Regions from separate parts of the Homo sapiens genome. Here region 2 is linked to region 1. The links come from fine-mapping of genetic effects on gene expression. A gene starts in region 1. The other region holds a variant in brackets. All regions are shown on one strand. Distances are from middle to middle.

Region 1 (16,464 bases):
TGAGATCGCGCCATTGCACTCCAGCCTGGGTGACAGAGTGAGACTCCATCTCAAAAAAAAAAAAGAAAAAAAAAGAAATTAGGATTGCTATAACATTATTATCTAATTTCATGTATCATCCAAATTCTCCCAAGTCCCATTAATGTCCTTTAGAATAAGATAAACTTGTTTTTTTCTGGTCCCAGAACTAATCCAGAATCATATTTGAATTTAGTTGTCATGTCTCTTGTTTCCTTTATTCTGGAGCCAGTTTCTCAGTCACTGCCTTTCACAACTGACTTTTTTTTTTTTTTTTTTTGAGACAGATTCTCACTGTGTCACCTAGGCTGGAGTGCAGTGGTGTGATCTTGGCTCACTGCAACTCAGCCTCCTGGGTTGGAGCAATTCTCCTGCCTCAGCCTTCCGAGTAGCTGGGATTACAGGTGTGAGCCACAATGCCCGGCTAATTTTTGTATTTTTAGTAGAGACGGGGTTTTGCCATGTTGGCCAGGCTGGTGTTGAACTCCTGACCTCAGGTGATTCACCCACCTTGGCCTCCCAGAGTGCTGGGATTACAGGCATGAGGCACCGTGGCCGGCCCTGTTGCGGGAAGTCAGGGGCCCCAAATGGAGGGACCGGCTGAAGCCATGGCAGAAGAACGTGGATTGTGAAGATTTTATGGACATTTATTAGTTCCCCAAATTAATACTTTTATAATTTCTTGTGCCTGTCTTTACTGCAATCTCTAAACATAAATTGTGACAATTTCATGGACACTTATCACTTCCCCAATCAATACCGTTGTGATTTTCTATGCCTGTCTTTACTTTAATCTCTTAATCCTGTCAGCTGAGGAGGATGTATGTCACCTCAGGACCCTGTAATAATTGCATTAACTGCACAAATTATACAGCATGTGTGTTTGAACAATATGAAATCTGGGCACCTTGAAAAAAGAACAGGATAACAGCAATTGTTCAGGGATTAAGAGAGATAACCTTAAACTCTGACTGCTGGTGAGCCAGGCAGAACAGAGCCATATTTCTCTTCTTTCAAAAGCAAATGGGAGAAATATTGCTGAATTCTTTTTCTCAGCAAGGAACATCCCTGGGAAAGAGAATACGCACCTGGGGGTATAGGTCTATAGACGGCCCCCCTGGGTGTGCCCATCTTTTATGGCCTGTAGACTGTAGGGGTGAAATAGACCCCAGTCTCCCATAGCGCTCCCAGGCTTATTAGGAAGAAGAAACTCCCGCCTAATAATTTTGGTCAGACTGGTTGCTCTCAAAACCCTGTCTCCTGATAAGATGTTATCAGTGACACTGGTGCCTGAAACTTCATTAGCAAATTTAATTTCACCCCAGTCCTGTGGTCCTGTGATCTCGCCCTGCCTCCACTTGCCTTGTGATATTCTATTACTTTGTGAAGTACTTGATGTCTGTGACCCACACCTATTCACACACTCCCTCCCCTTTTGAAAATCCCTAATAAAAACTTGGTGGTTTTTGCAGCTCGTGGGGCATCACGGAACCTACCGACATGTGATGTCTCCCCCGGTCGCCCAGCTTTAAAATTTCTCTCTTTTGTACTCTGTCCCTTTATTTCTCAAGCTGGCCGATGCTTAGGGAAAGTAGAAAAGAACCTATGTGACTATCGGGGCAGGTTCCCCAATACGGCCCACAACTGACTTTTTTTTTTTTTTTTTTTGAGACGGAGTCTTGCTCTGTCATCCAGGCTGGAGTGCAGTGGTGCAATCTTGGCTGACAGCAAGCTCTGCCTCCCGGGTTCACACCATTCTCCTGCCTCAGCCTCTCAAGTAGCTGTGACTACAGTTGCCTGCCACCATGCCCAGCTAATTTTTTGTATTTTTTTTAGTAGAGACGGGGTTTCACTGTGTTAGCCAGGACGGTCTCGATCTCCTGACCTCATGATATGCCCACCTCGGCCTCCCAAAGTGCTGGGATTACAGGCATGAGCCACTGTGCCTGGCCACAACTGGGATTTTTTAAGAATGCTGGCCTGCTGTGTTGTAGAATGTCTATTAAATTGGGTTTGTTGATGGTTTTTTATTATTTCATAGATTCAATTTGGTAGAAATATACAGAAATGATGTACTAGCATGATTCATGGATTCCTATTTTGTGGGTTACAATCCATTACTACTATCAGGGCTGGCTGCGTAATTTGTGGGGCCCAGCACAAATGAAAATGCAGGGCCCTGGGTGGGGACAAGGAAGCCAATTTCCTCTTCTCATAAACTGGCTGTTCCAGTCAATGCAAATGGACAATGCCCAGGGAACTGTACCTTCCATGCTGGTTTGTTCTCAGTTGTTGGATGGCACTGGTAAGAGGCCCCAGCTGAATGGCCTGCAGAATGTGCTGTGCTACTGTCAGATTAGGGAGGGGACAGCTGCCTTCTTGATCACCCCATGGTGCTATGAAAGTTGCAGTTACAGGATAAAGTCCACTTTACTCAGACCCAGACAAATTGGAGCTAGGAGAGCACAAAGGAGAGGAGCTCATGCTTGCATGTCTACAGCTAAAAGCTGTTTCCAGGCAATAACCCACAAGAAATTCTCTCATGTCCTTCATGCATCTTATGCTTTGCACGGCTTGCATGTTTCACACACATGCACGTATTTCTTTGACACAATTTCTTACTAGACATTTTTTAGGACTGCAGCAATTCAGATAAGATGATCTCAAAAGAAGGCTTGCCTGATAATGGCTTCTCTACCAGTGATCTACTAGTAACTCTGGCTTTGAGCCTCTGGTACCAATAAACTGTTTCTAAGTAGCTTACATGAACTTCTCTGTTGTACCGATAAAGGCTTCCCTTTACCCTCCCCTCTCTGGATGCATTTGTGGCTTGCTATAACTGTGCATCCCAGGTTATAATCCTTTTTGCTTACTCCCAGATAAAATAATTATATTATGAAATATTTTTTTCTGATGTCTTTTTTTTAGGTTGACAGTGCCCTGGGATATGGGCCCAACCCTGAACCCTCCTGCACCTATCCATACCTAGGTTTCTGCCAGGGTGGAAGGTGATGACAAAACGTGGGCCTCCCCTAGCCAAGGTGACCCAGTCACTGCTCTGAAGCAAGGCAGGGAATGCAAAGCTGGGCAGGGACCATGGGACCGGCGGTAGGGAATAGGCAGCAGCAGGCCTCAGACCCACATGTCATCAGAGGCTCCAGGCTCTCAGCATGCTCCATTGTGCCAAAAAAAAAGCAAAATTATAGTCTAATTAAAAATAAATAAGTCTTTAACTGAGGAATAGTCCTCCCTCAGGATGGATCCTGTGTCCTTTGCATGTCACTGTCATTTTCTGAGCACTCTTTTACTTTCTGGCTCATCTTTTTCCTTCCCAGACCAAGTTTTGTTTTTCTTTGTTTTTTTGTTTTTGAGATGGAGTCTTGCTCTATTGCCCAAGCTGGAGTGCAGTGGCACGATCTAGGCATCTAGGCTCACTGGAACCTCTGCCTCCCGGGTTCAAGTGATTCTCATGCCTCAGCCTCCCGAGTAGCTGGGACCACAGGCATGTGCCACCACGCCCAGCTAATTTTTGTATTTTTAGTAGAGACGGGTTTTCACCCTGTTGGCCAGGCTGGTCTGGAACTCCAGACTGCCCACCTCGGCCTCCCAAAGTGCTGGGCTTACAGGTGTGAGCCACCGCGTCAGGCCCCACACCAAGTTTTGAATCAAGAAGTACTGGGGCTGGGCACGGTGGCTCACACCTGTAATCCCAGCACTTTGGGAGGCCAAGGTGGTTGGATCCCAAGGTCAGGAGTTCGAGACCAGCCTGGCCAACATGGTGGAACCCCGTCTCTACTAAAAATACAAAAACAACTGGGCATGGTGGCGGGTGCCTGTGGTCCCAGCTACTCGAGAGGCTGAGGCAGGAGTATCGCTTGAAACCGGAAGGCGGAGGTTGCAGTGAGCCGAGGTCACACCGCTGCACTCTAGCCTGGGTGAAAGAGTGAAACTCTATCTCAAAAAAAAAAAAAAAGTATTGGTTCTTTTAAAAAAAAAAAATTGAAGCAAAATCTGCATCACAAAAAATTAGTCTTGGCCATTTTAAAGTGTACAATTCTGTGACATTTTGTACATTCACAATGTTGTGCAAATACCACTTCTATCTAGTTCCAAGACAGTTTCATCACCTCAGAAGGAAACCTCGTGTGCAATAAGCAGTCAACACCTCATTTCTCCCTCTCCCTAGCCTCTGGAAACCACTAGTCTGCTTTCTGTCTCTATGGATTTACCTGCTGTGGATGTTTCATATAAGTGGAATTATACAATATGTGACCTTCTGTGTTTGACTTCTTTCACTTAGTGTAATGTTTTTGAAGTTCATCCACGTTGTAACATGTATCAATACTTTATTCCTCTTTATGGCTGAATAAAATCCCATTATATGGATGTGCCACATTTTGTTTATTCATTCCTTGGTGGCCATTTGTCTCCAGTTCTGGGCTGTTGTAAATAATGCTGCTATGAACACTTATGTACAAGTATTAAATATTTGTTTGGATGCTTGTTTTCAGTTCTTTTAGGCATAGTTCTAGGAATAGGCTTGCTAGGTCATCTGTTTAACTTTTTGAAGACTCACCAAACTTTTTCAAAGTGATTGCACTATTTTACATTCCCAGTTTCTCCATGTCCTTGCCAAATCACCCTTCTTTCCTCCCTCCCTTTCCTTCTCCTTCCTTCTTTCTCTTTCTCTTGCTTTTTCTTTCTTTCCAACCTAGTGAGTTTGAAGTGGCAGCTCATTGTGATTTTGATTCACATTTTCTTAATGACTAATGACATTAAACATCTTTTCATTTGAAGTTGGCCATTTTTATGTCTTTTTTGGAGAAATGTATATTCAATTGTATTCATATGCCCACTTTTTAATTGGATTATGTCTTTTTGTTGTTGAGTAGTTACAGCTCTTTATATATTCTGATACTATAATTTTATCAGATATATATGATTTGCAAATATTTTCTCTCATTCTGTAGGTTGTGTTTTCACTCTGTTGATAGTGTGCTTTTATGCACCATTTACAAAAAATTTGGTGAAGTCTAATTAATCTACTCTTTTCTTCTGTTGCTTGTGCTTTTGGTGTCAAATCTAAGAAATATCATTGCCAAACCCAGGGTCATAAAGATTGATGCCTATGTTTTCCTCTAAAAGTTTTAGAGTTTTAGTTCTTATATTCAGCTATTTGATTCATTTTGAGTTAATTTTTGTGTATCATGTAATTTTATATATGGTATTGGTAAGAGTCCAATTCCTTATTCTTCTTCCTTTTTTTTTTTTTTTTTTTTTTTTCGGAGACAGGGTTTTGTTCTGTTGCCCAGGCTGGTGTGTAGTGGCACGATCTTGGCTCACTGCAACCTCCGCTTCCTGGGCTCAAGCGATCCTCCCATCTCAGCTTCCCGAGTAGTTGGGACTACAGGTGCAAGCCACCACGTCTGGCTAATTTTTCTATTTTTAGTAGAGACAGGGTTTCACCATGTTGCCCAGTTGGGTCTGGAATTCCTGAGCTCAAGGGCTCTACCTATGTTGGCCTCCCAAAGTATTGAAATTACAGGCGTGAGCTACCGCGCCAGGCCTCAGTTTCATTCTTTTGCATGTAGATATCCAGTTCTCCCAGTACCATTTGCTGAGGAAACTTCTTTCTCCATTGAAAGATCTTGACTATAGATGCATAATTTTATTTCTAGACTCTCAAGCCTATTCCACTTATCTATATGTCTTTATATCAATACCATAGGTTTTTTTTTTAATTACTATACCTTTGTAGTACATTTTGAAATCAGGAAGCATGAACTTTTTAAATTTTTGGGTCCTTTGCAATTTCATATGCATTTTAGCATACACTTTTCCATTTCTTCAAAAATGTTGTTGAATCTGTAGCTCTATCTGGGGAATATAGCCATCTTCACAATATTATGTGTTTGATTCCATGAACATTAAATGTATTTTCTTTTCTTTTTTTTTTATCTGAGAAGTTTCACTCATCACCCAAGCTGGAGTGCAGTTGCACGATCTCGGCTTACTGCAACCTCCACCTCCCGGGTTCAAGCAATTCTCCCGCTTCAACCACCCGAGTAGCTGGGATTACAGGCACCCACCACCACGCCCGGCTAAATTTTGTATTTTTAGTAGAGACGGGTTTCGCCAAGTTGGCCAGGCTGGTCTCAAACTCCTGACCTCAGGTAATCCACCCGCCTCAGCCTCCCAAAGTGCTGGGATTACAAGCGTGAGCCACCGCGCCTGGCCATGTCTTTTCATTTATTTAGATTTTCTTTTTTTTTCAGTAGTGGTTTGTGGTTTTCAATGTATAAATCCTGCACCTTCTTGGTTAAATTTATGCCTAGGTATTTTATTCTTTTTGATATTATTGTAAATGGAACTTTTAAAGTTTCCTTTTCAATTGTTCATTTCTAATACATTGAAATGCAACTGATTTTTATGTGTTGATCTAGTATCTTGCATCTTTGCTTATTTCATTTATTAGCACTAATAGATTTTTTATTTAGGATTTTCCATATATAATATTATGTAATTGGTTCCTTTTGTTGGAAAGGGATATTAAGAAATCAACATCCAGGTGCTAAGTGTACTCGTAGCTACTTTGATATAATTGCTTCTAGGACCTCTTAGCAGACAGAGCTAGATAATACATACATATACACATACATATATCTATATTTATTTATTAAAATCCATGAATTCTTACTGATTCCATCCACTTTAATTCTATTAGGAAAACTGGAGGCAGAACTCTCCATGTTGCAAGTAGCAGTGTCAGAAAAGCCCCAGTGTGGGAAGCAAGAGGTATACTGTGATCGATTCTGTGGCTGCAGTAAGAAGTGGCGTAGAGATGACTTTGAACTGACACACGAGATGTGTTCAGTGTACTTAGTTTCTGTAATAACACTCTCCTTGTTTTCTTCCTACCTCTCTGGATACTCTTTTTTTGGATTCCTTTTTGAACTTCCATTGCTCATGCCTTAAATGCTGGGTGTTCATCTGGGTTCTGTAACAAGCCTATTGCCCTCTCAGCTCACTTTCTAGATTAGCTCATTGATTCTAATGCCTTCCAGTACCTTTTGGGTAATAGCTACAGCACATGTTTTCTGTGCTTCAGATAGGCCTGTTTGACTACATACTAAACAGCTTCACTTGGATATTCTGTTGGTGCTAGTGTGTCAAAATGGAAATGTCCTAAACTCATCACTATGGCCTATTTCACCCTTCCTCCTGGTTGCAACTAGGTTTTCTTCCTGTTGCTTAATGGTTTCTTGTTGCCCAAACCAGAAACTGGGCATCCCCATGGACTACTGCCTCTCTTTCACACCCCTACATCCCAGTCCTCTTGATTCACTCTCCTAAATATGTCAAATATGTCCATTCATCTCCATCCTTATGGCCACTGCCGTAATCAGATCGCTATTATCCCTCACTTGGATTACAGCGTGCTAATTGACCTCTCAGACCCATTCTTAGAACCATTAAAAACTTGAGTTCTGAGTTTTAGGCCTGGCTGTGCCACTTATTAGCTGCATGATCTTGGTCAGACTGCTTAATCGCTTTAGGACTCAGTTTCCTCATCTGTAATACAGAGGTAAGAATAGTACCTACTTCATAAAGTAGTTGTAAGACACGTATGAGGTGATGTAGTCAAAACTATTAGCATATTGGCTGACTCATAGTAAATGATCAAGAAATGTTAGTTATGATCATGATCATCATTGCAGGGTTATTCACCGCACAGCCTCTGTTATTTCTCCATTTTCTTTTCTGATTGCTTTCAGTCTTTCAGCTTTTCTGAACCTCTTCCTGTTGCTCCAGTGTTGAATGCTATCTTTTGCTTCCAGGCCTTCCCTCTGCTCCATTTTCCTGGAATTCTCTTCTCCCTTGCCCCTTGCCCTCATTCATTCTAAGTTTATCCTTAACTTTCTCTTGATTTGGTGTCATTTATCTGTGCTCCAATAACACTCTTTAACTTCCTTTATTGAGGCTCTTATCTCACTACTGGAGTTGCCTACTTATTCGATGGTCTCTCAAGTAAGTCCTGACGTCAGGGACCAGTTTACCTTGTTTACTAATAGGGTGCCTGACTTGATGAATGAGTGAATGAATGGGTGATGAATGGGCCATAGCACCATCCTAGGTTTTCTGATCTCCTGTCTGGTATACTCCTGGTGAGAGCCTTGCCTGGCCACAGGAGTGGGGAAAGCTGAAGGCAGGCTTTCCCTGTGCCATATCAGCCATTAGCAATTACTACATTATTGGTTTCCCAGATTTTAGCTGATCAGTGATTCCCAGGACTATTCCTCTGGACATGAACATGAGGCTACCTTTTCCCTTTTTTTTTTTTTTTTTTTTTTTTTTTTTTTTTGAAACAGAGTCTCGCTCGGTCGCCCAGGCTGGAGTGCAGTGGCGCCATCTCGGCTCATTGCAACCTCCACCTCTCGGGTTCAAGCGATTCTCCTGCCCTCAGCCTCCTAAGTAGCTGAGACTACAGGCGCGTGCCACGACGCCCTGCTAATTTTTTGTATTTTTAGTAGAGACGGGGTTTCACCGTGTTAGCCAGGATGGTCTCGATCTCCTGACTTCGTGATCTGCCGGCCTCGGGCTCCCAAAGTGCTGGGATTACAGGCGTGAGCCACCTAACCCGGCCTTTTTCTCTCTTAACCTCACCAACAGTCTGATGGCCCTTCTCTCACACGGGAAGAGCTCTTGAAGTTATCAACCTGTTAGGACATTTGTTATCTCTAAACCCGAGTTTACTGTGTTATGTTTGCCTGGAAATGTTATATCAAATGTATGAAATTGCCAACTGTTTGTAATTTCATATGGTTCATCCTATATGTGATTTTGTAAATTGGACCCACCTGAGAAGCTAACTGCTGTAATGCCAACTGTGAGTAGCTACAGACTGGAAAGGTGATGGAGTTGACCGGGTGGGCCTGCGACAGCTGGAATTTGCGGTGGAGGTAGACACAAGTCAGCGAGACGGCTTAGAAGGCAGAAGGGAAGCTGAACTAAGGCTTCTCAACATTTTACTCTGCTTAGAAGTGGAAACATTTGGTTCAAAGGGCCTTTGCCTTAGACTCCATAGGGACAGGCCCAAGGGCTGCTGTTCACACCTCCTGGCCACTGAGAGGGATGAACTTGGCTGCCTCTGAGTGGGAACCACGAGGTCTGACCCCCTACGCAGTCCCAGGTTCACTACCCCGCAGGCCGGAGCGACACCGTTGGCGCTGGGAGAAGAGAGCCGCTGGGTGGCAGCAAAGGCGCGCAGGTTTCTTCCGACAGAGGCGGTTCCTTAACATACTGTAGTTTTCTTCTTTTTAAACTCATTGCTCTAACACTCTTAGAAATTTACAGTGGTTTTATATTCTTGAATTACACAGTGTGAGCAGAGACTCCGTTTGCCATTTCCTCCCGGAATTACATTGATTTTTTTCCTGCGAAATTTTTTACTTATTTTTCTCCCATGTTATTTCCAGGAATCCTGGGCATTCCCTTGCCCCGGAAACGCCGTGTCCAGGCCGACCTAAGCCAGGAGCCGCAGGGGCGGGAAGCCGGGGGCAGGGCCGGGCCTGGGACGCCGCCTCAGGAGCCGCGCGGACTCGGGAACCTCGGGCGGGGCCGGCGTGAGTACGCCCGGCACCTCCGGCTGCTACGGTGGCGACCGCGAACTGATGCCGTGGAAAACACCCTTAGAACATGGCTTTTTGGGGAGGTGAATAGGGGAGAGTCCCCAAACGACACCTCGCCGCGCACCGGTCCTTGGTGCAGTTTGTAAATGTCCCTCCTGTGTCCCAAAACGAAAACACTCCTATATTTTGTAGCGCCTTCCAGAATGGGGCAGCGGAAACTAGTGTTGGGACAAAGGAGGCGAGCGGGGCCTTTTCGGGGCTCACAGAGGACCCCTCGGAGGCGCGGCCGCCGGGGAGAGCGCGACAGCACCCCGCCCCCCGCCAGCCGGGCGGGGGCCGCTCCCGAGGTGACAGGAGAAGGCGGGAGGTGGAGGAGAGAAGGTCCCGCCCCACCTCGCTCTCCTTTACGGGAAGTGATGTGGGGCCAGGCGGAAAATACCCGCCAACGACCCAAAAAAGGCCGGCGGCGGGTGGACGCGGCGCGCGAGGACCCGAGCCAGGCGGGGACAGGACGGCGGGGCGAGCCAGGTGAGGGGGCCTGAGGAGCGGGAGGCGCGCGGCGGGTCCGGTCCCTCCGGGAGGGCCGAGCGAGGCGTCCCCCTGGGGCCGTCCTAGGGCTGGGGTCCGAGTGCGCCGCCCTTCCTCCCCGCCTCCAGGCGCCCGAGCCCGCCTGAAGAGTGGCTTCTCTCCCAGGCCCTCAGCGCAGACCCCAGTGATGACAACTGCCTGGTGCTGGCCAGGTGCGGTCCCAGGTCCGGCCAGGGTCTCAGATCGCCTCCGGGTTGCATCCAGGTGGGAGGATGCCCATCAGGGGTAGGAAACTTTCCAGGAGGGAAAGGAGGAAAGTCCCCGACCTCCCGCACGCCCCCCGGTTCATTCCTCCCTCTTTTGCTTTCAGTTTAACTGTTTAACCTGGTTGCCCTCCGGTTGGTGAGGGTCTGGACTGCAGACTAGCTGCGAGGGAGGGGCTCTCTCTTCTCCTGTCAGTTAGACTGAAAACTACCTGGCAGCCAGGCCCTCCGGTCGGGACTGGTGGTGGTGCAGATATGATGACAGGCTTTGGTAACTATTGCCAAAGCCTGTCTCTGTCCCAATAGATCACCAGTTCAGCAAAGTCAGGCCTGAAGCGAAGGGAGTCTTGTGAGCCCTGGACTGAGGAGCCTTCCCAGCCTTTCCGCTCCTGCTGGCCACCTGGGCCCACATGGCCTCAGGGTCTTCTGCCACAGGGTCCTTACCCCTACAGCTTAACAGCTGTTCTTTCCTTCTGGATGGATTCTCACATTTTATGGTTGGTTGATCAGTCAGATGTTGGAATTGGGGGTAGAGGGATTATAGAGTTGTGTGTGCTATTTAAGTTTTCTGTAATCATTGCTAATTAAATTTGTTGATTCTCCACTCACTGTTCTTGTTCTTTTTTTTTTTTCGGCCTTAAAAACTTGCTTTAGAGGGAAAATACAATCTGGAAAACAGTTTCTGCAGATGGTTAGAAGTGAAGAAAGGTTAATATAATGCTGAAGGAACTTGACTGAGGATCATTATTTTCTGTATTTTATGTTGGTTTATGTTGTTTTATGTTTTCATTCCTACTTTTTTCTTCCTTCCTTTCTACCATTCTCTCTTCCTCCCTCCCTCCCTTTTTTCTTCCTTCCTTAATTTCTGTGACGTGCCTTGATTTTTAATTTCGTTGAAGTATATTTAATCTATTTTTCCTTTTTTTTCTTTTGAGACAGAGTCTCACTCTGTCGCCCAGGTAGGAATGCGGTGGCATGATCTTGGCTCACAGCAACCTCCGCTTCCTGGGTTGAAGTGATTCTTTTGCTTCAGACTCCAGAGTAGCTGGAATTACAGGTGTGTGCTACCATGCTTGGCTAATTTTTGTATTTTTAGTAGAGGCGGGGTTTTGCTATGTTGGCCAGGCTGGTCTTGAACTCCTGACCTCAAGTGATCAACCTGCGTCAGCCTCCCAAAGTGCTGGGATTATAGGCTTGAGCCACTGCACCGAGCCTATTTTTCCTTTTGTTGTTTGTGCTTTTGATGTCAAAGTTAAGAAAACATTGTCAAATTCAAGATCATGAAGATTTATACTTATGTTTTCTTCTAAAAGTTTTATAGTTTTTAGCTCTTACATTTCATTCTTTGACCCATTTTAAGTTAATTTTTAAATATGGTGTGAGGCAGGGGGTCTGACTTCAACTTTTTGCATGTGGATATCCAGTTCTTTCAGCACCATTTGTTTAAAAGACTGTTCCTCTTTGAATAGTTTTGGCACCTCTGTTGAGATAAATTGACCATGAATGTAAAGGTTTATTTCTGGACTGTCAGTTCTATTCCATTGATCTGTATGTCTGTCCTCAGGCTAGTATCATACTACCTTGATTATTGTAGCTACATAGTGTTTTGAAATCAGGATATGTGAGTCCTCCAACCTTGTTCTTTTTCAAGATTGTTTTGACTATCCAGTCCCTTGAATTTCCATATGAATTTTTTTTTTTTTTCGAGATGGAGTTTTGCTCTTATTTACCAGGCTGGAGTGCAATGGCACGATCTCAGCTCACTGCAACCTCCGCCTCCCTGGTTCAAGTGATTCTCCTGCCTCATCCTCCTGAGTAGCTGGGATTACGGGCATGTGCCACCATGCCTGGCTAATTTTATATTTTTAGTAGAGACAGGGTTTCTCCATGTTGGTCAGGCTGGTCTCGGACTCCCGATCTCAGGTGATCTGTCTGCCTCAGCCTCCCAAAGTGCTGTGATCATAGGCATGAGCCACCATGCCTGGCCTTCCACATGAAATTTAAAGTCAGCTTCTCAATTTCTATTGTTTTGGTTCTAAAATAGATGTAAGGGTTTTAAAGTGAGCAACAATCTCTAGGAGCCAGATTTTTGAGTTTTCTCTCCCAAAGCTGCTTTTCCCCTAGTCTTCTCCATCTTAGTGAATGGCAACTTCACTCTTCCAGATGCTCACACCAAACACCCTGAAATCACTCTTGATTCTTTCTCTTATACCCCACATTAAATTCCTCAGCAGGCCGGGTGCGGTGGCTCACGCCTGTAATCGCAGCACTTTGGGAGGCCGAGACAGGTGGATCACGTGAGGTCAGGAGTTCAAGACCAGGCTGGCCAACATGGTGAAGCCCTGTATCTACTAAAAATACAAAAATTAGCGGGGCGTGGTGGTGGGTGCCTGTAATCACAGCTACTCAGGAGGCTGAGGCAGGAGAATCGCTTGAACCCAGGAGGCGGAGGTTGCAGTGAGCTAAGATCGTGCCATTGCACTCCAGCCTGGGCGACAGAGTGTGAGTCCGTCTCAAAAAAAAAAAAAAAAAAAAAAAAAGAATACATCTAGGATGATAACCATTTCTCACCACTTCTGCTGCTTCCACCAAGTTCTATCATCTCTGTCACCTGGATTACTGCAAAAGCCTTCTGAAGGGCTTCCCTGCTTCCACCCTTACTGCTCCACACTCTATTCTTAACACAGCAGCCAGAGTCTATTATGTCACTCTGCTTGAAACTCTCCAGTGGCTTTTTATCTCAGAAGTGACAGAGTCCTCACCATGGTCTATACAACCCTTGCATGGAGTGCGGCTTCATCTGCTATCACTCTTGCCTTTGCTGACTCTGCTCCAGCCATACCTCAGGACCTTTGCACTTGTTTCCTCTGCCTGGAATGCTCTTCCCCTCAGATGTCTGCATGGCTTTCTTATTTATTTCATTCAGGTGAAAAGTCATTTTTCTGGAGAGGCCTTCTTAGACCACTCCATCTAGAATAGTATCCCTCACCTATCCCATCATTTTCTGCCCCCTTACCTTGCCTTGTTTTCTTTCGAGTATTTATAGAACTGTCATACACAGACCAGCACACACACACAACATTTGTCTTTCACTGGTAGAAGACAAGCTCCAGGATGGCCAGTAATCTGCCTTGTTCACTGTGATGTCCATAGCACATAGAATGGTTTCTGACATATATTAAGCACTCAAAGAGATATGTGTTGAACTAATGAAAAAGGGAACAGAAGACAGAGCAATAGGGATCATTCTGCCATTTCTCCCATCCAAGTACTAACCAGGCCCAACCCTGCTTGGCTTCCAAGATCAGAGGAGATCGGGCACATCCAGGATGGTATGTCTGTAGAGTGTTCTGCTATTTCTTTCCCACTATTCCATCCATTTTTTTCTAAGAGAAGCAATGTCTATAGATACACCAACATCTCCTAAGTCTCTCGTCTTCTGTCCTACTTTCCCAAAAATAATAGTCTTATCTTCCTTAAAAAGGGAAAGGTCAAATAAGTAGAAAGGTGAGGATTTTGGTCCCTCCCACAGTGGCAGACCGGAGCCCTCTGTCTATATCCTGGGCAAACTGGGCAGGGCCATTCAGTGCCTATCTCCAGGGTGTTGGCCTCTTGTGCTAATTTAAGAAGAGTGAAGTTTTTTGGAAATTTGAGAAAATGGAAATTCATTTCTTATTTATTTATTCAATAGAAACGGGGTTTCACCATGTTGGCCAGGCCCCTGAGAAGGGAAATTGTCTTGCCATCGCTAAAACAAGATTGGTTCTTGAAGAGAGTAATTTTTCCCTTCTATAGCCTTCACTTTTTATGCCACTTGCAGATTTTCTTGGACTGTATTTGTTCTTCTGCCTCTTGGTCAGGAAGTTTGAGTTTATGATTTGGTTTCCCTTAAGCTAGGTGCAGACATGAGCCCTGAACTGGAGGCAGAGATAAAGGGTTTGTAATTTACTTATGTTCGTAGGGTAAGGTGTGTGGAGTAGAGAGCATTCAGCTCTGTTTGGACTCTCTGGTTTTGCAGGTACTTGTATGATTGAGGTCTAGTAATACTCATATTTTATTTATTGTCAAGTAAAATTAGATGCCTCTCTTACGAGGAATGCTGAAAGTTTTGTTCCTCCTTTCCTGTTTTTTTTTTTTTTTTGGTTGTTTGTTTTTCGTCTGTATATGTTGCCCTTAAACAGAAGTTTACCATGTAGTGCTTTAGTCAGCCAACCTCCCGTGTGTGGAGTGAGAGTTTTGATTCTAATGTGGGGATGGAGGTGGGGTGCCAGATTTAGCAAACTAAAAAAAAGTTAAATTTGCATTGCAGAAAAACACTAAATAATTGTTTCCTATATCTTATACATTATTTGGGACATACTTTTACTAAAAAATTGTTCTTTATCCAAAATGCACATTTAACTGGATGTCTTGTTTTGTGTCTGGCAGCCCTAGCTGGAGTTTATGTTTATGCATAGGAAATGCATCGATGGTGAAAATGTCCAAAGAATGATTGAGCCATGGCTGATTTTTGGTGATTGTGCATGTATCCAAAAGAGAAGATTTGTAAACCCAAGGAGTATTAGAATTAGAAGGAAGTTAGAGAACATTTCATTTTACTCTAGTCTTTTATAGTTAATGGAATTTACTCCAGAGAGGTTAAGTCACTTTGTCAAAGTCACATAGAGTTAGTGGCAGAGCTGGAAGTGGGACTCTGGAACCAGCAGTTGTTCTGCTGCATAATCCCTTCCCTTAAGAGGTCATGAAGAAGTTGCTTATGTTTTCATGTTGACCTTTAATCACATCTCTAGCCATCCACTCAAGATCACCTCATTATCATACTGTCCTTCAGTCCCCAGATCCAACATGTGGCAGCCAAAGCCATTCTCATGAGACACTTTGACTTTTCTCTGAGAGCCGCATAACTGTTGAAAGCCCCATGTGGTTCTTGTCCCTGCTGTTATGCCAGAAAGCCTGTAATTCAATGTGGTTTTATTTTTTTTTATGGTTTTGTTAACACTTTTGACCCTCTGGAGTATTTATTATAAGGTGCTTTGATTAAGGTGGTCTTACTGAGTATAATTCCACAACAACTAAGTGTTGTCTTATGGAAAGCCTGCTTGCTTTGAGTGGCCTATTCCCACAAAATTCCTCACCCCTTTTTATTTTGGTACAATAAATATGGAAGATATACATATGACAAGGACCAAGGTAGATAGACAGGTGTATGTGACTTGCTCACTAGAGATCTGTTCTTTTTAAACAAGATTTTATTATTTTTTATTGTAATTATTTGTACCTATTTAAAAGAAAGCAGCCTTGAAAATGAACTGCTTTCTCTAACTGCTATTTGAATACCATATTTCAGAACCACTAATCTTGTTTTTTCATAGTTTCATTGGTTAATTCATATAAAGTCTTACCAGCTGCCAGGTCAAAGCATAATAATAAAATTGGTTGCCACGAGACTGAAAAGTCTGTTCATTCTTATTTGCTATAGTTTATCTACCTTGGCCTGATCCCACCACCTGGGAGGCTGGTCAAGTCCTATCAGGGTATGGCTAAATACTAATCTGCTGTGTATTTGTATCGTTAAAAGCAAAGTCAAGGTCTAAATCAGCTAGTTAAACACAATAATATGATACTTTTGTTCTTGCTGTACTAGCCCTAATAAGGGGAGAAATGAAACATACAGAAATAGGTCATGACTTAAATGTTCATTTACAAAACTAAAGAATTTTAAAATATAACCTATGATTGTGGTCAGGATTTCTTTGTTTCTTGCTAAGAAATCATTATGAAAATAGTGATTTTCATAATAAATCGCATCATTTCAAGGAAACAACTCCAAGAATGAGTGAAGAGGTGTAACAGTCCTTGAAAAGATAAGTCATTGTCCTCACAGTCAAATACTGGAGACCTAATGTGGCTTTTCTCATTAGGGACAAGGTCAGCTGTCCCAGGTCCCACGTCTGCCCTAGGCTGTGTATTGAAGTGGGTTGTGTAGTGAAGTGGGTTGTGGTATTTCCTCAGGTGGCGGCTCATTC
Region 2 (16,464 bases), 160 kb before region 1:
GGCAACAGAAGGAGACTCTGTCTCAAAAAAAAAAAGAAAGAAAGAAAGAAAGAAAAAAGAATAGCTACTCCTGCTGACTTTGGTGTTCATTTGCATGGAATATCTTTTTCCACCCTGTTTATGAGTCCTTATATGTTAGGCAAGTCTGTTAAAAGACTTACTTGGTTGGTTGATTTTTATCCATTTGACATTCTGTATCTTTTAAGTGGAGCATTTAGGCCATTTACATTCAATATCAGTATTGAGATGTGAGGTACTGTTCTATTCATCATGCTAGTTGTTGCTGTACCTTATTTTTTTTCATTGTGTTATTGTTTTATAGATCCTATGAGATTTATGTTTTAAGGAGGTTCTATTTTGGTATATTTTGAGGTTTTGTTTCAATATTTAGAACTCCTTTTAGCATTTATTGTAGTGCTGGCATGGTAGTGACAAATTCAGCATTTGTTTGTTTGAAAAAGACTTTATCTCGCCTCTGGTTATGAAGCTTAGTTTCACTGGATACAAAACTCTTAGCGGATAATTATTTTGTTTAAGGAGGCTAAAGATAGGACCCCCATCCCTTCTGGCTTGCAGGGCTTCTGCTAAGAAATCTGCTGTTAATCTGATAGGTTCTCCTTTATAGATTACCTGGTGCTTTTGCCTCACAGCTCTTTTTTTTTTTTTTTTTGAGACAGAGTCTTGCTCTGTCACCCAGGCTAGAGTGCAGTAGCGTGATCTCGGCTCACTGCAACCTCCAACTCCCGGGTTCAAGCAATTCTCCTGCCTCAGCCTCCTGAGTAGCTGGGATTACAGGCACCTGCCACCACGCCTGGCTGATTTTTGTATTTTTAGTAGAGATGGTGTTTCACCATCTTGGTTGGCCAGGCTGGTCTCGAACTCCTGACCTCGTGATCCACCCGCCTTGGCCTCCCAAAGTGCTGAGATTACAGATGTGGGCCACTGTGCCTGACCTTGCCTCACAGCTCTTAAGATTCTTTCTTTCATCTTTACTTTAGACAATGTGATGACTATGTGCCTAGGCAATGATCTTTTTGCAATGAATTCCCCGGGTGTTCTTTGAGCTTCTTGTATTTGGATGTCTAGATCTCTAGCAAGACCATGGAAGTTTTTCTTGATTATTCCCTCAAGTATGTTTTCCAAACTTTTAGATTTCCCTTCTTCCTCAGGAGCACCAATTATTCTTATGTTTGCTTGTTTACATAATCTCAGATTTCTTGGAGGCTTTGTTCATTTTTTAAAATTCTTTTTTTCTTTGTCTTTGTTGGATTGGGTTCGTTTGAAAGCCTTGTCTTTGATCTCTGAAGTTATTTCTTCTACTTGTTCAAATCTATTGTTGAAACTTTCCAGTGTATTTTGCATTTCTTTAAGTGTGTCTTTCATTTCCAGAAGTTTTGATTATTTTTTCTTTATAATATCTATTTCTCTGGAGACTTTTCCATTCATATCCTCCTTTTTTTAAAAATTTCTTTAAGTTGATTTTCACCTTCCTCTAGTGCCTTCTTGAGGAGCTTAATAATCAACCTTCTGAATTATTTATCTGGCAATTCACAGATTTCTTCTTAGTTTGGATCCATTGCTGGAGAGCTAGTATGATCTTTTGGGGGTGTTACAGAACCTTGTATTGTCATATTACTAGAATTACTTTTCTGGTTCCTTCTCATTTGAGTAGACTGTTTCAGTGGTAAGATCTGGAACTCAAGGGCTACTGTTCAGATTCTTCTGTCCCATGGGTGTTCCCTTGATGTGGTGCCCTCCCCCTGCCACTAGGGATGGGGCTTCCTGAGAGCCAGACTGCAGTGATTGTTATTGCCCTTCTATTTCTAGCCACCCAGTTGGGCCCCAGGCTGGTGCTGGGGAATGTCTGCAAAGAGCCCTGTGATGTGATCCACAGGTCTCCCAGCCGTGGATACCAGCACCTGTTCTGGTGGTGGCAGGTGAGTGAAGTGGATTCTGTTGGAGTCTTTTGTTGTAATTTTGTTTAGTGCACTTCAAGTACTGGTTATGTAAGCAGTGAAGTTGTCACGTGGACAGATTCAGGACCTCTGGCTAGACAGGGTGTTGCAGGAAGTGGAATTAGCTGTTGTTTTCTCCTTCTTTGGAGCAGGGTTGTTCTGTTATGAGTTGCTATGGTGGCTTGAGTTCGTTGGGCTCCAGCCAGGAGGTGGCACTTTCAAGAGGGCACCAGCTGCAGTATAGAAGAGAGATATAATCTTGATGTTGGCCGGGACAAGTACTCGGGTTTCTCAGGTGATGGGCAGGGCCATAGAGCAGGTAGAGAAAACCTTGCCCCATCAGGTGGGGGCAAGGTTAGTTGGGTCTGGGCTCAGGCTCCCCTTGGGTGGGGCTTGCTGTGGCCACAGTGGGGGTGGAGGGGATTCTCAGGCCAATGGAATTATGTTCCCAGGGGCATTATGGCTGCCTCTGCTGTGCTATACAGGTCACCAGGGAGGTGGGGGAAAGCTGGCAGTGACAGGCCTCACCTAGCTCCCAGGCAGCCACCAAGGCCAGTCTCACTCTGGCCATGCCACCCCAACCGCACTGCGTTTATATCCAGGCAGTTGGTGAGCAGGGCTGAGATCTTGCCCCAGACTATAAGCCTTGCCACTGAGAAAGCAAGAGGGCTGTTAGGCCTCACCAGTCCCTGCCTGCCCACACTATTGGCTGTGGCTTCTGCACTCGCATCTGTACTTCCCATTTGCCCCCTCTGCCACCAATTTCTGCTTAGGAAAATTCCTGCTCAGTCAAAATTATTACAAAGTTCAGCTACAAGCTTCCTTCACCCTGTGGTCCTGCCCCAATTCCACTGGCTGCCTTCCCGTCTCCAAGGACCTCTGTGAGATCACGCCAGGAATGGCTTCCTTGGACTCCAGCTGGGGATGGAAGTACCTATAGGGCTCTTCCTGCTGCTTCTTCTACTTTCATATTTTGCTCAGCTACCTAAATCTATTTCAGCTCAGGGTAAAGTTAAATCCTTCCCCTGTGATCTGGATTTTCAGGTTCCCCAGTGGGGATGTATGTTCAGAGACTGACCTTTTCTTCCCTCACACTTTGGGAACTCACGGTTTTTCAGCTGTTTCATGGCATTTGCAGCAGCGAACCACTTCTTTCAAAGGGTCTGTGAATTCTTTCAGTTTTCCTACAGTGTTTCTTGCGGTGTTCCTGAAGTGATTCTTGGAGTAAAAGTTCGCATTGTGAGTCTCCAGATGCTGTTCTGTCCATCCAGGTGGCAGCTGCATGTTAATCCTGTCTCCGATCTGCCATTTTCCCTCCTATCTCCCAATGAATATAATTCTATACTGAAAGCTACGAGTTTGGTTTTATCTAATTTTAGAATATTAAACTTTGTTTTGGATGCATTTTCCGCCGGATGCAGTGGCTCACGCCTGTAATCCCAGAACTTTGAGAGGCTGAGGCGGGCAGATCACCTGAAGTCGGGTGTTCAAGACTAGCCTGACCAACATGGAGAAACCCTGTCTCTACTAAAAATACAAAACTAGCCGGACGTGGTGGTGGGTGCCTGTAATCCCAGCTACTCGGGAGGCACTGAGGCAGGAGAATCGCTTGAACCCAGGGAGGTGGAGGTTGCAGTGAAGCGAGATCTTGCCATTGCACTCCAGCCTGGGCAACAAGAGTGAAACTCCATCTCAAAAAAAAAAAAAAGAAATATTTAGTATTTTCCTTACATAAGTCATTATTGAATTCCTATAAATTTAACATTTTAGTGTAAAATCACATATATAATAATAATAATTAACATTTATTAGGTGACTACTATGTGCCAGGGGATTTTATTGCTTGGGTCACTCAGTCTTCACAACACTTCAGTCTAAGTGCTGCTATTCTTATTTTAGAGGAAATAGATGTTCAGAAAAAAAAAATAACTATGAATAAGTAAACTTGTGGGATTTGAACCCAGATCTGGTCTGCATCTGAAACCTGTGCTATTTCCACCAGGTCATATGTCTTTACAACTTTAACAGTGAGGCTTGGCATATTGAAAAGTCATTTAGAGCCTGGGCATGGTGGCTAACGCCTATAATCCCAGTACTTTGGGAGGCCGAGGTGGGCAGATCACCTGAGGTTAGGAGTTCCAGACCACCCTGGGCAACATGGCGAAACCCTGTCTCTACTAAAAATGCAAAAATTAGCCAGGTGTGGTGGCATGCGCCTGTAGTCCCAGTTACTCAGGAGGCTGAGGCAGGAGAATCACTTGAACCCAGGAGGAAGAGGCTGCAGTGAGCCAAGATCGCGCCACTGCATTCCAGTGTGGGTGACAGAGTGAGACCCTGTCTCAAAACAACAAAAACAAAAAAAAGTCATTTAGATTGAATATATATATATATATATATATATATTCAATTTGCTAATATTTTATAAGCAGTTGTCACATTTATCTTCATATTGAGGTTCAGTTATATTTTTCTTTCCTCATACTGTTCTTGTCTAGATTGTATACCAAATTGTACCAGACCTATATACTATAGAGCGTTTTTCTTTTTCTACTATTTGAAACAATATAGTTAGATAAGAGAAATACCTGTTGTTTTAAGGCTTAGTAAAACTTCCCCTAAAACTGTCTAGGTCTGGAGTTTTTTTATGGAGGTTTTTTTAAAAAAAAAAAAAGATTCAGTTTCTATAATAGTTATTGATTATTGAAATTTTCCAAAGTCAATTTTGGTAGTTTGTCTTCTAAATTGTGCATTTTATCTATTCAAATTCATTTTCATAAAGTTTTTATTTACTTATCTGTACTTTATCTATAATTATATAATTTATTAATTTCTAATATTGTTCTTTTTTTTGAGACAGGATCTCACCCTGTCACCCAGGATGAAGTATAATGGATCTAGCTTGATGCTTAATAAAGTAATCTATCCTTTGTTTCTGGTTGTTTTAAAATTCTTTCCCTTGGTATATTATGGGTTCATTAGTATAAGTTCAATTTTATATTTATTTATCTCATAATATCATAACTTGGAGCATACTGTCACTCAGAGAACTTTGTCATTCATCAATTCTGGGAATTTCAAAACTATTGTCTTCAAATATTACCTTCTTGGCTGGTAATTTACCTTCTTGGCTCATGCCTGTAATCTCAGCACTTTGGGAGGCTGAGTTGGGCGAATTACTTGAGACCAGGAGTTCGAGACTTGCCTGGCTAACATGGTGAAACCCCATCTCTACTAAAAATACAAAAATTAGCTGGCTGTGGTGGCACATAGCTGTAATCCCAGCTACTTGGGATACTGAGGCATGGGAATTGCTTGAACCCGGGAGGCAGAGGCTGCAGTGAGCCAAGATCGTGCCACTGCACTCTAGCCTGGGTAACAGAGTGAGACTCTGTCTCAAAAACAAAAACAAAAACAAACAAATATTACATTATTGTATTCTCTTGTTTTCAATATATATTTTCAAATTACACAGATGTTTTTCTTTTTTTTTGAGACAGAGTCTTGCTCTGTTGTCCATGCTGGAGTGCAGTGGCACGATCTCAGCTCACTGCAACCTCCACCTCCTGGGTTCAAGCAATTCCCCTGCCTCAGCCTCCTTAGTAGCTGGGACTACAGATGTGCACCACCACACCAAGCTAATTTTTGTATTTTTAGAAGACACGGGGTTTCACCATATTGGCCACGCTGATCTTGAATTCCTGACCTCAAGCGATCTACCTGTCTTGGCCTCCCAAAATCCTGGGATTACAGGCGTGAGCCACCATACCTGGCCAACTTTCTTGTATTCTCTTTATCTTCCTCAGCTATTTTCTGTATAATATCCTCAGATCTATCTTCTAGTTTATAAATTTTCTTCAACCATGACTAATTTTATGTTATACTTGTCCAAGATGTTTTTAATTTCAGTGACAATATTTTTCATTTTGAAAGTTCTGTTTTTTGGCCAGGCGCTGTGGCTCATGCCTGTAATCCCAGCACTTTGGGGGGCCGAGGTGGGTGGATCACGAGGTCAGGAGATGGAGACCATCCTGGCTAACCCGGTGAAACCCCGTCTCTACTAAAAGTACAAAAAATTAGCTGGACGTGGTGGTGGGTGCCTGTAGTCCCAGCTACTCAGGAGGCTGAGGCAGGAGAATGGCGTGAACCCGGGAGGCAGAGCTTGCAGTGAGCCGAGATCGCGCCACTACACTCCAGCCTAGGCGACAGAGCAAGATGCTGTCTCAAAAAAAAAAAAAAAAAAAAGAACTGTTTTTTTTTCACACCTCTCTGTTCTTTGTCACTAGCTTCTTAGTTTTCATTATTGATGTTAGCCTGTCTTTACTGGCTTTAAGTAAGTATGTTTAAAATGATCAATCTCTTTCAGATTGTTGTGCTATTTCAAAGTCTTGGGGAGCCAGTCGTCTTATTTGTTGTGTCTGCTGATTGTTCCTCATACTGGATTGTTTCCTCTTGTGAATTGTGCTTTTTTGCCTGACCACTAATCTTCTGCAAAAACTTCTTAGTGTGTATGTATGAGGAAATATCATATATTCTTATTTGCAAAAGACTTGTTGATGAGGAATACCTGGAGCTTCCATTTCTTACAAGAGACATTTTTTCCAAGCTTCACTTTCTAAGATTAGTGAGCAGAGATCGTATAAGCATCCTTTTCACTAAGAGTGATGCCCACTGGGCACGGTGGCTCATGCCTGTAATCCCAGCACTTTGGGAGGCCAAGGTGGGTGGCTCACGAGATCAGGAGTTCGAGACCAGCCTGGCCAACATGATGAAACCCGTGTCTACTAAAAATACAAAAAAATTAGCTGGGCATGGTGGTGCACGTCTGTAATTCCAGCTACTCAGGAGGCTGAGGCAGGAGAATCGCTTGAACCCGGGAGGTCCTACCCTTCTATGATTCTAGTTTCATTTCCACCTCCCCACCTCTGTACCTATATCAGCATTAAATTTCCAGTCTCCAGCCATTGATATTAATCTATTTGCATCTAAAATCTTTCCAAACAGCTTTGTGTCAGCTTTTGAGATGACCCTGGCTTTAAGTTCGATGATGAAGCATTTCCTTTACTTACTTTTGAAACTGAACTATATATTGAACCTTTTGTTTATTTATTTTTTATCAAGAATTTGTATGTGTTCATAACATTTTACCTTTTCATAAAATTGCATGTAAAACTTTGTAGTAAAAGTTTTAACCTGTGTTGTTACAAACAGCAAATTTCTTTTTTATGTTTTGCAATTTGCAAATGGAAAATAGAAGAGTTTGTAAATTAGATATATGAGTTTGGAAATTATATATCTTATTTTTACTGTAACTAGTGGTCACTGTAATATTTTTTATAAACACATAAAGATTTGTTTTTCTGTAGCAATATAGTTTTTTTTAGTTATCCTCATGGGATAATAGTGATGATTTCCTGCATGTTCTATATCGTATTAATCATTAGTATTATTAGTAATCTGAAGTAAAATGAAGTATGCTTGATTTTTACTTTCTATTCTATTTTCCTTCTTTTTTTCCTTTTCCTTTTTTTTTTTTTTTTTTTTTTTTTAGTGAGACATGCTCTGTTGTCCAGGCTGGAGTGCAGTGGCGTGATCTTGGCTCACTGCAGCCTCTGCCTCCCAGGTTGAAGCGATTCTCCTGCCTCAGCTTCCCAAATAGCTGGGATTACAGGTGCCTGCCACCACCCCTGACTAATTTTTTGTAATTTTAGTAGAGATGAGGTTTCACCATGTTGGCCAAGCTGGTCTCCAACTCCTGACCTCAAGTGATCCACCCGCCTCAGCATCCCGAAGTGCTAGGATTACAGGTGTGAGCCGCTGCGCCCAGACCTATTTTCCTTCTTTTGTA[T/A]TACTATTTAAAAATATTATTTACAGGCTGGGTGTGGTGGCTTACACCTGTAATCTCAGCACTTTGAGAGGCCAAGATGGGAGGATTGCTTGAGCCCAGGAGTTCAAGAGCAGCCTGGGCAACAAAACAAGACCCCATCTCTACAAAAAAGCATACAAACAAAAAATTAGCCATGTATGGTGGTGGGCACCTGTAGTGCCTGCTCTTGAAAGGCTGAGATGGGAGGATTTTTTGAGCCAAGGGGTTCAAAGCTGCAGTGTGCTGTGATTGCATCACTGCACTCCAGCCTCGGTGACGGTAATAACCCTGTCTCAAAAAAAAAAAAAGATATTATTCACAAAATTTTTAGTGTGTTCTCCACTGCTTTAGAAAACCCATTCTTTTTCATTTTGCTCTCAAATTCCCCACTCCTGGTTTCTTAATGTTATTTCTCTGTGTTCTGGAACATTTATTTGAGTAATGTATTCACAAAAGATGACTAGGTAGTGTTGGCTGAGTTCTTACATACCTAGAAATGTCTTTTGCCATTATGAGTGAGCAACAGTTAACTTGGATATAAAATTATTGGGATCTTGTATTAGGTAGGTTCAAGCCGAGCATTGTAAAATAAAGCCCCAAATGTACAGATCAAATAAAGATAAAAATTTAGTTCTCTTTAATGTAATACTTTGTTATGCAACAGTGCTCAACGACTGTGTTCTACAAGGCCATCCTGGCTGATGGGATCACCTCTGTTATCACATTATTTGGCTTTCATCTTTGAGTCTAAGAGCGCTCCTTCCCCCCTTGCCCCAGTCCTTTGAAATGTCTAGTCAAGACCCTTTCCTAGTTTTCGTTTGTTTGTTTGTTGGAGACGGAGTCTCACTCTGTTGCCCAGGCTGGAGTGTATGGCACGATCTCGGCTAACTGCAACCTCCACCTCCCAGGTTCAAGCAAGTCTCCTGTCTTAGCCTCCCAAGTAGCTGGGATTATAGGTATGTGCCACAGGCCTGGCTAATTTTTATATTTTTAGTAGAGACAGGGTTTCATCATGTTGGCCAGGCTGGTCTTGAACTCCTGACCTCAGGTGATTGGCCCGCCTTGGCCTCCCAAAGTGCTGTGATTACAGACATGAGCCACTGCGCCCGTCCTTGCCAGTTCTCATTAGTTCTCTTTGATGGCTAAAACCTCTTACACTATTATAAGAAAGCATATAGGAGATAAAGTATGTAGGAGATACTGCTATAGAGTTTAAGGAGATAGAGATGGTATTGGCAGTGGTGGTTTTGCCTATGTGCCCTTCTCTAGAGTTGATGTAGAGTTGCCTAGAGTATCCTCCCTTAGAGTTGATGTGAATTAAACACTGTGGTTTTACAAAGAGAACCCCAGAAAAGTAGCTGAGGCCATTGATAAAGAGCAGGTAGGTCATTAGCTGCTATATTATCATTGCTAAATTTTGCATTCTTTTCTTGCAGAAAATATATTTGATTTATTTGTTTAGGATTTGGGGGTGAGCTTTGATGTGTAATTACTTTATCAGTTGATTGTTAACTAGAAAATGAGAAATAAGTGACTTGTTTGCTACCATTGTTTTTGAAGGGAGAAATTCAGAAAATATATTTACTGAGAAGTTAAAGGAAGACAGTATTCCTGCTCCTCGCTCTGTTGGCAGTATTAAAATCAACTTTACCCCTCGAGTATTCCCAACAGCTCTTCGTGAATCACAAGTAGCAGAAGAGGAGGAGGTATATATACTTACTCTAGTTACAATTACCACAAATGAAAATACTTTATTTTTATTTCATCTATTGAAATTAGTACTGGTTCTGAATTTCTTAAGTATTTATTACACTAAAGAAATAACGTCATGAATATGTTTTAGAATTTCCTTATGAGAAAATATATTTTGCAGATGTTTTTGGCTCCAGAATAGTGATAAGAGAATACCGACTTAATATATGTACAGTAGGCCGGGCGCAGTGGCTCATGCCTGCAATCCCAGCACTTTGGGAGCCCGAGATGGGTGGATCACTTGAGGTCAGGAGTTCAAGACCAACCTGACTAACATGGGGAAACTCCATCTGTACTAAAAATACAAAAATTAGCCTGGCGTGGTGGCGAGCACCTGTGATCGCAGCTACTAGCGGGGCTGGGGCAGGAGAATTGCTTGAACTTGGGATGTGGAGGTTGCAGTGAGCCGAGATTGCACCATTGTACTCCAGCCTGGGCAACAGAGTGAGACTTTGAATCAAAAAAAAAAAAAAAAAAAAGCGGTCTTTTTGTTGTTGTTGTTTGTTTTAGAGATGGAGTTTTTGCTCTTGTTGCCCAGGCTGGAGTGCAGTGGGCACAATCTCAGTTCACTGCAACCTCCTCCTCCCAGGTTCAAACAATTCTCCTGCCTCAGCCTCCCTAGTAGCTGGGATTACAGGCATGCGCCAGCATGTCTGGCTAATTTTTTATATTTTTAGTAGAGATGGGGTTTCACCATGTTGGTCAGGCTGGTCTCAAACTCCTGACCTCAGGCGATCCACCCTGCTCGGCCTCCCAATGTGCTGGGATTATAGGCATGAGCCACCGTACCCAGCCAAGAACTGCATTTTTTTACTGCGAGGCTGAATTGATGCATCTTTGATTTGAAAAATTGTAGAAATAAGAAGATCCTTAAGACATAATGACAAGCCGGGCGTGGTGGCTCACGCCTGTAATTCTAGCACTTTGGGAGGCCGAGGTGGGTGGATCACCTGAGGTCAGGAGTTTGAGACCAGCCTGGCCAACATGGTGAAACCCCATCGCTATTAAAAATACAAAAATTAGTCCAGTGTGGTGGCAGGCACCTGTAATCCCAGCTACTCGGGAGGCTGAGGCAGGAGAATCACTTGAACCCGGGGGTCAGAGGTTGCAATGAGCCAAGATTGCACCATTTCACTCCAGCCTGGGTGAAAGAGTGAAACTCTGTCTCAAAAAAAAAAATAAAAAATAAAAGACATAATGACAATATAAATAATTATTTCATATTATTAAACAAGGTATTTTCTATATTTGTAACATTTCTATAATTATACAGTTATAATAATAATAATAATTATTATTATTTTGTGGGATGGAGTCTCGCTCTGTCCCCTAGGCTGGAGTGCAGTGGCGCAGTCTCCGCTCACTGCAAGCTCCACCTCCTGGGTTCATGCCATTCTCTTGCCTCAGCCTCCCGAGTAGCTGGGACTACAGGTGCCCACCGCCACGCCCAGCTAATTTTGTGTAGTTTTTAATAGAGATGGGGTTTCACCATATTAGCCAGGATGGTCTCAATCTCCTGAACTTGTGATCCACCCACCTCGGCCTCCCAAAGTGCTGGGATTACAGGTGTGAGCCACTGCGCCCGGCCCATAGAATTATTTTTGAATTGTGTTTATACACACACACACACACACACACACACACACACACACACACCCTTTTTTTTTTTTTTTTTGAGTTGGGGGTCTTGCTCTGCTGCCCAGGCTGGAGTACAGTGGGACAATCATGGCTCACTGTAGCCTTGAACTCTTGGGCTCAAGTGACCTTCTGCATATTTTTCAGTACAGAAAAATGAAAATATAAAAGAATTTTAGATCAATATCCTGGATGAACATCGATGCAAAAATCCTCAATAAAATGCTGGCAAACCGAATGCAGCAGCACATCAAAAAGCTTATCCACCATGATCAAATGGGCTTCATCCCTGGGATGCAAGGCTGGTTCAACATACGCAAATCAGTAAACGTAATCCAGCATATAAACAGAACCAAAGATAAAAACCGCATGATTATCTCACCAGATGCAGAAAAGGCCTTTGACAAAATTCAACAGCACTTCATGCTAAAAACTCTCAGTAAGCTAGATATTGATGGGAAGTATCTCAAAATAATAAGAGCTATTTATGACAAACCCACAGCCAATATCATACTGAATGGGCAAAAACTGGAAGCATTCTCTTTGAAAACTGGCACAAGACAGGGATGCCCTCTCTCACCACTCCTATTCAACACAGCATAGTGTTGGAAGTTCTGGCCAGGGCAGTCAGGCAGGAGAAAGAAATAAAGGGGCTCCCCTCTCCCCTCTCCCCTCTCCCCTCTCCCCTCTGCCCTCTCCCCTCTCCCCTCTGCCCTCTCCCCTCTCCCCTCTGCCCTCTCCCCTCTCCCCTCTCCCCTCTCTCTTTCCACGGTCTCCCTCTGTTGCTGAGGCTGGACTGTACTGCCGTGATCTCGGCTCGCTGCCACCTCCCTGCCTCAGGCTCCTGTCATTCTCCTGCCTCGGCCTGCCGACTGCTTGGGATTGCAGGCACGCACCGCCATGCCTGACTGGTTTTTGTATTTTTGGTGGAGATGGGGTTTTGCTCTGTTGGCCCGGCTGGTCTCCAGCTCCTGACCTCCAGCTCCTGATCTGCCCGCCTCGGCCTCCCGAGGTGCTGGGATTGCAGATGGAGTCTTGCTCACTCAATGCTCAATGTTGCCCAGACTGGAGTGCAGTGGCATGATCTCGGCTCGCTACAACCTCCACCTCCCAGCCGCCTGCCTTGGCCTCCCAAAGTGCTAAGATTACAGCCTCTGCCTGGCCGCCACCCCATCTAGGAAGTGAGGAACATTTCTGCCTGGCCGCCCATCGTCTGGGATGTGAGGAGTGCCTCTGCCCAGCCGCCCAGTCTGGGATGTGAGGAGCACCTCTGCCCGACCGCCACCCCATCTGGGAAGTGGGGAGCGCCTCTGCCCGGCTGCCCCGTCTGGGAAGTGAGGAGCGCCTCTGCCCGGCCGCCCATCATCTGGGATGTGAGGAGCGCCTCTGCCTGGCCACCCCGTCTGGGAAGTGAGGAGTGCCTCTGCGCAGCCGCCCCATCTGGGAAGTGAGGAGCACCTCTGCCCGTCAGCTGCCCCATCTGGGAAGTGAGGAGCGCCTCTGCCCGGCTGCCCCGTCTGGGAAGTGGAGAGCGCCTCTGCCCAGCTGCCCCGTCTGGGAAGTGGGGAGCGCCTCTGCCCGGCCGCCCATCATCTGGGATGTGAGGAGCGCCTCTGCCTGGCCGCCACCCCGTCTGGGAAGTGGGGAGCACCTCTGCCCAGCCGGCCCGTCTGGGATGTGAGGAGCACCTCTGCCCGGCCACCCCATCAGGGATGTGAGGAGCGCCTCTGCCCGGCCGCCCCATCTGGGATGTGAGGAGCGCCTCTGCCTGGCCACCACCCTGTCTGGGATGTGAGGAGTGTCTCTGCCCGGCTGCCCCGTCTAGGAAGTGAGGAGCGCCTCTGCCCGGCCACCCCGTCTGGGATGTGAGGAGCGCCTCTGCCCGGCCGCCACCCCATCTGGGAAGCAGGGTGCGCCTCTGCTCGGCCGCCCTGTCTGGAAGGTGAGGAGCGCCTCTGCCTGGCTGCCCTTCATCTGGGATGTGAGGAGCGCCTCTGCCCGGCCACCCGGTCTGGGAAGTGAGGAGCACCTCTGCCTGGCCACCCCGTCTAGGATGTGAGGAGCACCTCTGCCCGACCGCCACCCCATCTGGGAAGTGGGGAGCGCCTCTGCCCGGCCGCCCCGTCTGGGAAGTGAGGAGCGCCTCTGCCCGGCCGCCCATCATCTGGGATGTGAGGAGTGCCTCTGCCTGGCCACCCCGTCTGGGAAGTGAGGAGTGCCTCTGCCCAGCTGCCCCCCCCCCCCGTCTGGGATGTGAGGAGCGCCTCTGCCCGGCCGCCCCGTCTAGGAGGTGAGGAGCGCCTCTGCCCAGCTGCCACCCCTTCTGGGAAGTGGGGAGCGCCTCTGCCCGGCCACCCCGTCTGGGAGGTGAGGAGCGCCTCTGCCCGGCTGCCGCATCTGGGAAGTGAGGAGCGCCTCTGCCTGGCTGCCCTGTCTGGGATGTGAGGAGCGCCTCTGCCCGGCCGCCACCCCATCTGGGAAGCGGGGAGTGCCTCTGCCCGGCCACCCCGTCTGGGAGGTGAGGAGCGCCTCTGCCCGGCCACCCCGTCTGGGATGTGAGGAGCGCCTCTGCCCGGCCGCCCCGTCTGGGAGGTGAGGAGCGCCTCTGCTCGGCCGCCCCGTCTGGGAGGTGAGGAGCACCTCTGCCTGGCTGCCGCATCTGGGAAGTGAGGAGCGCCTCTGCCCGGCTGCCCCGTCTGGGATGTGAGGAGCGCCTCTGCCCGGCCGCCACCCCATCTGGGAAGCGGGGAGCGCCTCTGCCCGGCCACCCCGTCTGGGAAGTGGGGAGCGCCTCTTCCCGGCCGCCCCGTCTGGGAGGTGAGGAGTGCCTCTGCCTGGTGCCCTTCGTTTGGGAGGTGAGGAGCGCCTCTGCCTGGCCACCCCGTCTGGGAGGTGAGGAGTGCCTCTGCCTGGCCGCCCCATCTGGGAGGCGAGGAGCGCCTCTGCCTGGCCGCCCCATCTGGGAGGTGTACCCAACAGCTCCGAAGAGACAGCGACCATCGAGAACGGGCCATGATGACGATGGCGGTTTTGTGGAAAAGAAAATGGGGAAATTTGGGGAAAAGAAAGAGAGATCAGATTGTTACTGTGTCTGTGTAGAAAGAAGTAGACATAGGAGACTCCATTTTGTTCTGTACTAAGAAAAATTCTTCTGCATGGGATGCTGTTAATCTATAACCTTACCCCCAACCCCGTGCACTCTGAAACATGTGCTGTGTCAACTCAGGGTTAAATGGATTAAGGGCGGTGCAAGATGTGCTTTGTTAAACAGACGCTTGAAGGCAGCATGCTCGTTAAGAGTCATCACCACTCCCTAATCTCAAGTACCCAGGGACACAAACACTGTGGAAGGCTGCAGGGACCTCTGCCTAGGAAAACCAGAGACCTTTGTTCATGTGTTTATCTGCTGTCCTTCTCTCCACTATTATCCTATGACCCTGCCACATCCCCCTCTCTGAGAAACACCCAAGAATGATCAATAAATACTAAAAAAAAAAAAAAAAAAAAAGGGTATTCAATTAGGAAAAGAGGAAGTCAAATTGTCCCTGTTTGCAGATGACATGATTGTATATTTAGAAAACCCCATCGTCTCAGCCCAAAATCTCCTTAAGCTGATAAGCAACTTCAGCAAAGTCTCAGGATACAAAATCAATGTGCAGAAATCACAAGCATTCTTATACACCAATAACAGACAAACAGAGAGCCGAATCATGAGTGAACTCCCATTCACAATTGCTTCAAAGAGAAAAAAATACGTAGGAATCCAACTTACAAGGTATGTGAAGGACCTCTTCAAGGAGAACTACAAACCACTGCTCAACAAAATAAAAGAGGACACAAACAAATGGAAGAACATTCCAAGCTCATGGATAGAAAGAATCAATATCGTAAAAATGGCCGTGCTGCCCAAGGTAATTTATAGATTCAATGCCATCCCCATCAAGCTACCAGTGACTTTCCCCAAAGAATTGGAAAACAAACTACTTTAAAGTTCATATGGAACCAAAAAAGAACCCACATTGCCAAGACAATCCTAAGCCAAAAGAACAAAGCTGGAGGCATCATGCCACCTGACTTCAAACTACACTACAAGGCTACAGTAACCAAAACAGCATGGTACTGATACTGAAACAGAGATATAGACCAATGGAACAGAACAGAGCCCTCAGAAATAATACCACACATCTACAACCATCTGATCTTTGACAAACCTGACAAAAACAAGAAATGGGGAAAGGATTCCCTATTTAATAAATGGTACTGGGAAAACTGGCTAGCCATATGTAGAAAGCTGAAACTGGATCCCTTCCTTACACCTTATACAAAAATTAATTCAAGATGGATGAAAGACTTAAATGTTAGACCTAAAACCATAAAAACCCTAGAAGAAAACCTAGACAATACCATTCAGGACATAGGCATGGGCAAGGACTTCATGTCTAAAACACCAAAAGCAATGGCAACAAAAGCCAAAATTGACAAATGGGATCTAATTAAACTAAAGAGCCTCTGCACAGCAAAAGAAACTACCATCAGAGTGAACAGGCAACCTACAGAATGGGAGAAAATTTTTGCAATCTACTCATCTGACGAAGGGCTAATATCCAGAATCTACAAAGAACTCAAACAAACTTACAAGAAAAAAACAACCCCATCGAAACATGGGTGAAGGATATGAACAGACACTTCTCAAAAGAAGACATTTATGCAGCCAACAGATACATGAAAAAATGCTCATCATCACTGGCCATCAGAGAAATGCAAATCAAAACCACAATGAGATACCATCTCACACCAGCTAGAATGGCGATCATTAAAAAGTCAGGAAACAACAGGTGCTGGAGAGGATGTGGAGAAATAGGAATACTTTTACACTGTTGGTGGGACTGTAAACTAGTTCAACCATTGTGGAAGACAGTGTGGCGATTCCTCAAGGATCTAGACCTAGAAATACCATTTGACCCAGCCATCCCATTACTGGGTATATACCCAAAGATTATCAATCATGCTGCTATAAAGACACATGCACATGTATGTTTATTGCAGCACTATTCACAATAGCAAAGACTTGGAACCAACCCAAATGTCCATCAATGATAGACTGGATTAAGAAAATGTGGCAGTAATGTGTGCCATCCAGGGCTAGAGCAAGTGCGGCCCCACGGCCTGCACGGCCCTGAGCCATGCTGAGGAGCTGCGCCAGGCGCCTCCGCACGCTGGGGGCCCTTTGCCAGCCGCCACCGGTAGGCAGGCGCCTGC

The links. PIP is the estimated chance that this variant, and not a neighbour inherited with it, causes the effect.
Region 2: its variant is fine-mapped to the expression of RAB27A in whole blood (TOPMed, PIP 0.94).

The regions. Positions count from the first base shown.
Region 1 is chr15:55,283,427-55,299,890 of GRCh38, reverse strand. RAB27A (RAB27A, member RAS oncogene family) reads left to right here and starts at 10,078. Exons shown (of 7, transcript NM_183235.3): 1 at 10,078-10,175. RefSeq lists an enhancer at 9,611-9,760 and a silencer at 9,861-10,390.
Region 2 is chr15:55,443,282-55,459,745 of GRCh38, reverse strand. It overlaps DNAAF4 (dynein axonemal assembly factor 4), which reads left to right. Exons shown (of 10, transcript NM_130810.4): 6 at 9,379-9,524. It overlaps DNAAF4-CCPG1 (DNAAF4-CCPG1 readthrough (NMD candidate)), which reads left to right. Exons shown (of 16, transcript NR_037923.1): 5 at 9,379-9,524. It also overlaps the pseudogene LOC100420711. Among named protein-coding and RNA genes, the nearest start is that of PIERCE2, 43 kb to the right of the region's middle. The variant T/A (reference allele first, on the strand shown) is at 7,801.